Regions from separate parts of the Homo sapiens genome. Here region 2 is linked to region 1. Evidence: fine-mapped expression QTL. A gene starts in region 1. The other region holds a variant in brackets. All regions are shown on one strand. Distances are from middle to middle.

Region 1 (4,396 bases):
CTGTGAGACAGCTATAGCTACAGTTTGAGTGAGGTGACATGGCATGAGTTTCTCATATATCCTTAAGTGATTAGCACAGCCCCCTTCACCTAGAGGAGACTCAAGAATGTTTCTTGGATAGTTGGATGATAACCGTTTTCTGGAACACAACAGATAAATAAGCTATGAATCTGACCCAGTGTTCTTAATACTTAAAAATCTGTCACCTGAATGTCTATCATTACAATGAAGAAAAATTGGCCAAGAGAGGTGGCTTGTGCCTGTAATCCCAGCACTTTGGGAGGCCGTAGTGAGGATTGCCTGAATCCAGGAGTTTGAGACCGGGCAACATGGTAACATGGTAAGTCTCCATTTCTTAAAAAAAAAAAAAGAAAGAAAGAAAGAAAGAAAAATTAACACTTCTCTGTGAAAGAACATCTTAGGGAAGTTTTACATAAACGTTAAAGTCCCTGTGTATGTATGTGTTTATATGTATGTTTCCTTGTAGAAGCAGCTTTTGAACAAATATCACTGGGATAGATTTTTGGTAGTCTGATTTGATGGTGCGCCCTTGGGGTCCTTTCCCAGCCTGACCCTGAGGTGAATGCCAAAGATCTCAATGTTGAGGTGCCCTTGAGCAGCGTGTTGGGGTTCCAGACTTGCAGATCAGCCCCCAGGCGTCTCCCCTCTCCCACCACCCAGCCTATGCCTTACACCTTCCTTCCAGTACTTCCCTGGCTGGTAAACTGGCCTGAAAGGGTCAAGGGAATTTGTTGAGTTTTATATTTCTTCCCTTTGTTCCTAGCTATGGCTGCCAAATCATCTTATTTTTGCAGGAAAATTACTGTGATGTTTTAGATTAATTCAGAGAAGCTTTCAGTGGGCTCCTTAAACATCATACCCAGTGCAGTCTAACAGGCATTTGTTGTGGCAATGGCTTTGTAGTTTTAAAGGTGACCTATAGTCCCAGCAACAAGCATACAGAGAACTCAGTGCATTCTTTTAGAATTGTGAGTGTAAAGTATTGCTTTTTAAGGTTTGCTATTGCTGTACCCAGTATGTTAAATCTAAAACATCAGACATTCTGTAAACACGTTTAAAAATTGAGTTTTGTAAATTTGCCTTATTTTCTTTGTTACAATGGAAAACATTGCTTTCAGTGATTAGGGGAAAAAGTGGATGGCAAATTTAGAAGACACTATGATCCTTTATATCTTTTTTTCTTGGAAAGGCAATTTAATTAGGAAATAATCTTCTCCTGTGACATCTGAGAGTTACCATAAAATGATATCCTGCTTTATTGGCAACAGAACCAGTTTATTTGAGTTTGTTGCAAAATTTTGAGCTATTACATTACTATGAAAAGATAGATTTTAAATAAGAACGACGAGTTTACAAAAATCAGAAATGGCAAAGCACTTTATTTTTTAAAGCAATCCTCGATTTTAAAAAGTACAATTTCAGACGGGCAGGCAGTGGGGGAGCGTATAGGGAAGGAGAAGGAAGCACCAGGGGAGTATGTCTTGGGCCGATCACGCCAGGCCGCAGCTCTGGCTGGTTGTGCGCGTGTGACTGTGTGCACGTGTGTGTGTGCACGCGCAGCCACAGGACCTCTGGGCCCGGCCTTCAGGGGCGCTCCCCGCCCCGGGCTTCCCCGCGGAAGGGAGTGGGGCGCGCGTACCCAGCTGAGGGGCAGGGTCCGACCCGAGGCCGTGTGCAAATGCATCCTTCGCGGACTCTTTGTGTGTCTGAGCGCGGCTCCGCGCCGCCGCAGGCACCATTTTCTGCTTCGCTCAGGACAGGCACATAAAAGGAAGGCGGCTGCCGCCCGTCGCCGTCCTCTTTTCCTCAGATGCCCTCTGCTGCAGGTTTATTATTACAGTACGGGCCGCGCCGCCTCTCCCCACGGCCCTGGCGGGCCGCCGGGCTGTGCAGCACCCTGGCCGCCTTCACGCTTGGCGCGCCCCCAAACCGCCTCCTCCACCTCCTTATTTGTCTGAAAAGCAACCGCACGTCGAGGCGGAGAGGCTGGCCGGGGGCGGGGAGGAAGGCCGGGGATTTGCGCGCGCCGTGCTCCCGGGGCGGGGCCGGGGCGCAGAGCTGCGGGTCCGCTTTGTCTCCCCGGGGCGCCGCGCGGTGCAGTGGGGACGGCGCGGCGAGCGGGGCGCCCGGGGCGCGGGTGCGGGGTGTCGGGGCGCGCGCGCCTGTTGGCCGCTCGCCGACGGGGCCCAGAGCCGCCGATTCCTGCCGAGTAAGCAGTCTGGCTCCTAGGCGGCTGCACAGTGGCAGCAAGGCTGGGGCGCTGGCTCCGCGCCAGCTCCATCAGAATTAGCTCATTGTTCACTAGCACCCTAGCGGGAGAGAGAGGGAAAGGGAGAGAGAGAGACTCTTAGAGAAAGAGAGAGACACACACACTCTTGGAGAGAGAGCGCGAGGCAGGGAGATGATCTCCTCCTCCTTTTTCCAAGGCTGCACTTCTTGGAAGTGAAGCCGGTTTGGGTTTTGTTTCCCTTCCCCCTCCTCCCTCCTCTTCCTCCACCCCTTTCCCCTCCCCCTCCCTCCCCCAATCCCCCCTCCCCCCCCAATCTGTCTTTCTAGCATGTTGCCCTTTTTCAACCACATTTGTGTTTCAGGTGTAGAGAGGAGAGAGAGTGAACAGGGAGCGGGGCTTTTGTCTGTAAGTATATGCCATTCCTATCCCCGGCTGGGAGCGCTGGTTTCTCTTTTGTGTCGATTCCTTGCCGTTGCTCTTAGCTGGACCCTTCAACCCTGCAGAGTTCATGCTTCTTCCCTCTAAATTTTAAAGAGCTGAAGCGTGTACCTTGGAGAAATTCTGGCATTTTGGTTGTGCTGCATTCAGGCTGGAATTTAACTTGGGTTTTTTCTAAAATGCACAAGTTCGGAGGGAGAAATGAATTCTTTTGGGAAGGGGTGGGGTTTTGTGCTTGTTGGTGTGGTTAATTTTGTTCTTCTTGCTCCTAAAGCCTTGTTAGAAACTGTTGTGTTTCTTTGCATTAAATGCACTTTGGTGCATGCAAGCTTTTCCTCCCTTTTTATAAAATGAATTTGTGTCCCTCCGCCCTTACACTTGATTACTCTTTCAATGCTGCTGCTTCCGAGGGTCTTCTTAGGCATTCGATCTTGCAGCACTTTTTTCTGCATTTTCTTATAAAGCAGTTGAACTTTGGCGGGGAGGGCCTTAAAAATAAATGACTGTTTTTTTCTTGGTGATTATAATAATCTGATGTGCATTTATGTGTATCTATAATAACATTATAGGAAAACTCTAAGAGCGAATGATACCCTTTTTGAGAACTTTTAGTTTCTCCATTCATCTTAATTTTTGTCATAACTGTGTTAACAAAAGAGCGGTCTTCTGATAATATAAAGGTTGAGGGTAAATCACTGCAGCAGTATGTACATTAATGTTTATTTGGTTTAGGGAGAAGGACAGAATGGTGTATATTCCTGACTCCCCCCACCCCCCCCGCCGTGTAGGGTTTTTTTTTTTTTTTTAAACACGGAAGGTTATGTAATGCAGTGCCATTTCCAAAAATATCCACTCTGAGGCATTACACTACACGGTGGAAGGCTGATTCCTATTCTGTCGTCTTGATTGCAAATATACTGCCAGTAGTATGTCTGGGAACAAAGAGCAGCCAGAAAACAATCTATTTTTATCACTTGGTTCTACTTTTAAGTTGCTAAACCTTTTGAACTCATGCAATTTAAAGATGAACCAAACACTAAGAATAGCCCAGGACTCTGCAAAGCCAAGTACCAGGGATTCCTTTGTCCCTTAGTTAAGCCTATAGGCCACTTGGAAAGCTCTTTCAGAAATCCCAGTAGTTAACAATAATTTGCATGTAACTTATCTTAACCACAGAAAATGGTTATTCGTCTGTAACCTCTAAAGAGGCATTTTTCGTTTGCTGACCTGTGGTGAGGCGATGTGTCTACTGTATTTAAACATATTTTGCAGGTTGGTCTCCCTGGACTGAAGAGAGGGAGAATAGAAGCCCAAGACTAAGATTCTCAAAATGGTAAGACTTGGTCATCAGAGGAGATTCTCAGTACTTCTTACCAGTCTGTTACATATAAATATCAACCACCCATCTTCATCCGCCTCAACCCTTCATTGTTCTACACCCCATCTGACCTTTAAAAGGTTCTATCTCCAGTTCCTGGGAGCGTTGCAGTACAGCAATTTATGTGAATTGGATGTGGCAAATTAGTTCTTTGACTTGCAATTATTTTGAATAGAAAACTAAAATTCCTCTTTCAGAAGTGAGGATTTATTTAATTTGAACAACAGAAACTATTCGGTTCTTTAAGAAGAGTGATGTGTTGTGACACGCATGGAGGTGGTGACAGCAGTAGGGCTCAAACAAAGCCTTGGGTCTTAGAGCTAGGCCGA
Region 2 (4,396 bases), 27 kb after region 1:
TGAACTGGAGCAGTTTTAAGGCAAGCTGTGTAAAGACTATAATTGTTGAGTTAACATTTATCAACTTTTGGTTTTCCTTCTTTTCTTGCCTGTGACAATTAACAGCCATTGAACTCTTCATTTGTCCAAAACCTAAGTTTGTCCTATCCTGAACCATGGTAACTGGTTGACTGTGGGGTGAGGTGGGGTCGGGCTGGCAGCATTATTTTAAAGACACTGGGATTACAGTGGATTTCCTTTTTTTTTTTTTTTTTTTAAATTTTGGGACTGTGTACCAAGATTCCAAGATTGAAATTATTTTCACAACTGCAAGTAACTACCCAATATTATGCTTTTGGAAATTGAATCTAGACCCTTAAGGGTGTGTGAGTGGTGAATTATATTTTTATTTAATTTTCTGGTTTGGTCCCATTGGTATTTAATGATACCAAAACAACCTCTAAAATCACAACCTAAGATTGGAATATTAAAGTACATCATGGTTATATATGTGCAAAAAATGCTGTATGCTCTCAAAGTCCGAGACTTTTAAGTAAAAAATTGAGGCATACCAGATGTTTAATATGGAAAATCTGTACAGTAAGTAAGACTTTTTAAAGTTGAATAATCTGTTGCATTTAGTTCACCCCTGGGTTGCTGAAAATATTTATTCAATTTCAAGTTGTTTGGAAGTTACTGGTTTCTGAATTCTTAAAAAGAAATTCAGATGTGTTAATTTATAGGCCACAAAGTAAGATTATCACTTTAATCCAAGTACTTTACATCTAGTCAAACTGGCTTATTAAAACTGTCTTGTTAGAACATGTGACTTGAGCAACAAAAAAAAAAGCCCACATGTTTTAAAACCACAAAGGATAATTTCTTCCAAGAAAATGTCAGTAATTAAAACTCCAGAGTTCAGCTGAAAGAGAGACCATCGTCAAATCTTCACTGTGTTCATACCTGTACAGGGCATAAAATCTATCTGTTGTAAATGAATACCTGTATTGTGCATCATGTGGGCAGGTGTGCTTCACTGTGCTGTGCTTCTGCTGTCTGGTTGTGATGGAGAGCTCCTCTCCACTGTTGGCGCTGCAGCAGTGTGTCCGGGAAGCCACGTGGCGGCGGATCAGTAGTCACACTGAGATTGAGTTATTCTAGTCAGAAACACAAAAACCTTTCTCATCAGGATTGTGAGGAGAGCCTTAGAATAGCCCCAGTCAGTCTAGATGAGCTGAATCTCACTCTCTTCTGGCCTTGGTTTCCCCACTAGCCCCCACTTTCCTATGACCGCTGTCTGGGCACCCTCACATCATTTCTCTCCCAGACAGACACTTCCCATCTTTGGTAGCCACTTCTGTCATGCGCCGATTGCACATAGAATAAGCCATACATAGATAAGATTGATGCAAGTTGAGATACGTTTTTAAATATTTTTATTACATATTAGAAAATAGATTGTTAACCCGTCTTCATCACACCCACTGGACTCTTTTTTTTTTTTTTTATAATTATCAACTGACACTCCTGTGAGTATCTATCAATCACCCAGTCTAAGGTTGGGCCCTATCTGATACTAGAAACTGTCCCAAGAAACCTGACACTGGGGAATGCTGCCTCACACATGGCTGGCACCACCGTAACAGAAGCACTTCATTCTACTGAAGCAAAGGTGGCCAGTGTTTAATTACTTCATTTCCTCACAGACCTAATATTTACATTCAGGTGAACTGTGTTTAATATGTAAACTCTGTTTTGCAAAACAGCAAGAGTTCAAGGGTATAATGTGGGCTGGGCAGGAAAAGCAAAATTTTAAAAAATGGTTTCAGAAGCATGACTAATTTTGTCTTTTATGTGTGTCTGTCTGTGTGTGGGTCTGCCTGCTTTGCAGGGAAGACTTCCTGTCCCAAAGGAAGTGAACCGCAAGAAGAACGATGAGACAAACGCTGCCTCCCTGACTCCACTGGGCAGCAGTGAACTCCGCTCCCCAAGAATCAGTTACCTCCACTTTTTTTAATCGTAACACCTCCATTTGTATTACATATGGTGTATGGGTATTGATGAGGTCATGGTATCATATATGGGATTTTTTTCTGTGTAAATCATCAAGTATAAGAAGAAACTATGGGACTCTGAGCCTTGCTTTAGAGAATTTACAGTGGACAAATAGGTGTCATCAAACCAGTTTTTAATCATTCTGACTCAAGTGAAAACGCTCAGAATTTCACACTGTGAATCCACGTTTACAACCCTTACAGGTGGGCCTTCAGGCCTGGTTCGCTACAACAATGTCTTCCACAACTCAAACTCCCACCGCGCTCACACAACCGGTCCACTCCTGCCTTTTCACTCACACAGCTCCCGACTGCTTCTTGCAGAGGCTGAGAGTCCCCCCCCC[A/CCA]CCTTTTTTTTCATTTAGATGTAACAAACCTAGTAGTTTATGTTCATCAATTGTCTGTATATCTCTATATTTTATCCATGTACTCTTTTGATGTATAGAAGTAGTTTGAAACTCATTGTTTCCTTGTGGTAAGTGACCGAGATGCTGCCACAGGACCTGAGACACTGATGAATGGTGCTATTTTGGACTTTCAACATGCTCCTTGGCGAGGTAGCTCTGATGGAGTTATTTTTTATTTCCATGTTCTAAGAAGGTGTTGGTACTCTGTTTCCCTGAATGTTGTTCTCTAGACTGGATTGACTTGTTTTCCTTGTGTCTTCAGTGTGGCTTTCTTCCTCAGTGTTGTAGGTTGAGCGAATGCTACCAGAGTGTGAGAGACCATTGTCTCGTTGGCTGGCGCTCACGGACATGCAGTCACGGTAGCGGGAGCAATCACAAAACTGTAATTTACTTACCAAATCTCTTCCTTTCCGTAGCCTCGCCTGCCTGACTTAGAGAAAGAAAAGCAATAATTTTACAGGCATTTTGAGGTGTCTCTTTGGGTTCTTTCTGTTTGAAAGGATATTTGTCGAAAAAAAGAGCAAAACCGTTTTAAATAAACTCCCCCTGGAAAAAAACCCAAAACACTGGCATCTGAGTGGGAATATGAAAATGACACCTTTTCCAAATATTAAATTGGAAAACAAGGTCTACAAAATCATGATACTTTTTTAAAAGGCAGAGCATTCTTTTTTCGGCAATTTTGATAAGCAAGGTGTAGATTTACATTTTTGTCCTTGCTCCCAACGAAATGGATAAACAAAAATAAATTACCATCTACTCATGGAATGTTGTTGTGTTAGCCAGTCTGAAAGCCCACCTTAATTTTTATATAACTGTCTTTAGCTCTTCTTTTGACAGGGCAGGCCTTGTTCTGAACTGTTTCGCTTCTGACTGTTAAACACCGATGACGCATGCACTGCACTTCTTCGTTTTCTTCTTGCTCCCCCATTGGCCTGAGTTTCTTGTGCATTACTCCTCTCCCTCCTTCGTTAGAATAGGTATATCAGCTGTGTAAATAGAGCAAGAAAACAGTATTCTGCATCTGTGGCATTTATGTAGAGTTGCAGTTGTGTACTGCTGAAAATGCAGGCTTTTGTAACAGTGTGATCTTTACTGATGCACTCATGACAAGTACCCAATGTATTTTAGCTATTTTAGTAGTATTTGTTCAATAAATACGCAAGCTGTAAGGTAACTGTCTGATTTGGCTCATCATTGAAGAGGCCTAGTTTTGAATGTCTTCTCTGGTTCTTGCTAATTCATGTGTTTCCAGAGCCCCAGAAGTCAGGCCAGCAAACCCAAGGGCAAATATCAAAAGAGAGAGAATCAGCTCTGCCTTTCATGCGTTTTCCCTTTTGAGGATTTTATGAGATTAGGGGCTAGGCAGTGGCTCATTAAGATGGTATTTGCAGAGCTGCCTCTGGACACAAAGCAGAATTAGACCAAGATCCTTTTATTTCTACACTTTTTCTCCCTTCCAAGGCATTCCCATACGCTTCAAAACTTACTCTTTCTCACTCCTTGCCATTAAGACCCACTCTGTGGTATTCTTTAAGACCCACTCTGTGGTATTCTTTCTTTTTCCCTGCCAAAAGAGATCTGACCTCCCTTCTTCATGGAATATGTGCACTTTTCCTCAGACAAAAAGCTTAAACTTTTGTAAGAGGATAAAAATTTGAGACAGAATTTAAAGTCATTAAGGCTTAATTCATGTGTACCCAGATACCTGGAACCTACCAGATGATAAGGTGATGATGAGCAGAGCCTTCTAGAGGTCTCATGTGACCCTGAAACCTGGCAATTCAGGGGATTCATGCACTCCCTGTGCATGAGAAATGTCTTCTGGTTTCTCCTCATCCATTACGGGAGTGAAATTTTAACTTGGCTTGTACACAGGTTGCTTATTTGGCTGGTGGGTTCAGATATTGGAGTTTCACCTCAACAGAGACTAAGGAACAGACCTGTGAGATAAAAGCC

The links. PIP is the estimated chance that this variant, and not a neighbour inherited with it, causes the effect. A credible set is the group of variants that fine-mapping cannot tell apart.
Region 2: its variant is the best candidate, but not a certain one, in a credible set for the expression of NREP in whole blood (INTERVAL, PIP 0.88).

Annotation. Positions count from the first base shown.
Region 1 is chr5:111,755,396-111,759,791 of GRCh38, reverse strand. NREP (neuronal regeneration related protein) reads left to right here and starts at 2,598. Exons shown (of 4, transcript NM_004772.4): 1 at 2,598-2,656; 2 at 3,962-4,022. The coding sequence starts at 4,020. RefSeq lists silencers at 1,468-1,827, 1,848-2,247 and an enhancer at 2,841-3,398.
Region 2 is chr5:111,728,521-111,732,916 of GRCh38, reverse strand. NREP (neuronal regeneration related protein) reads left to right here. Exons shown (of 4, transcript NM_004772.4): 4 at 1,871-3,614. The coding sequence ends at 1,996. It overlaps STARD4-AS1 (STARD4 antisense RNA 1), which reads right to left. Exons shown (of 7, transcript NR_040093.1): 4 at 4,157-4,380; 5 at 3,237-3,426; 6 at 1-1,136. Among named protein-coding and RNA genes, the nearest start is that of NREP, 26 kb to the left of the region's middle. The variant A/CCA (reference allele first, on the strand shown) is at 2,378.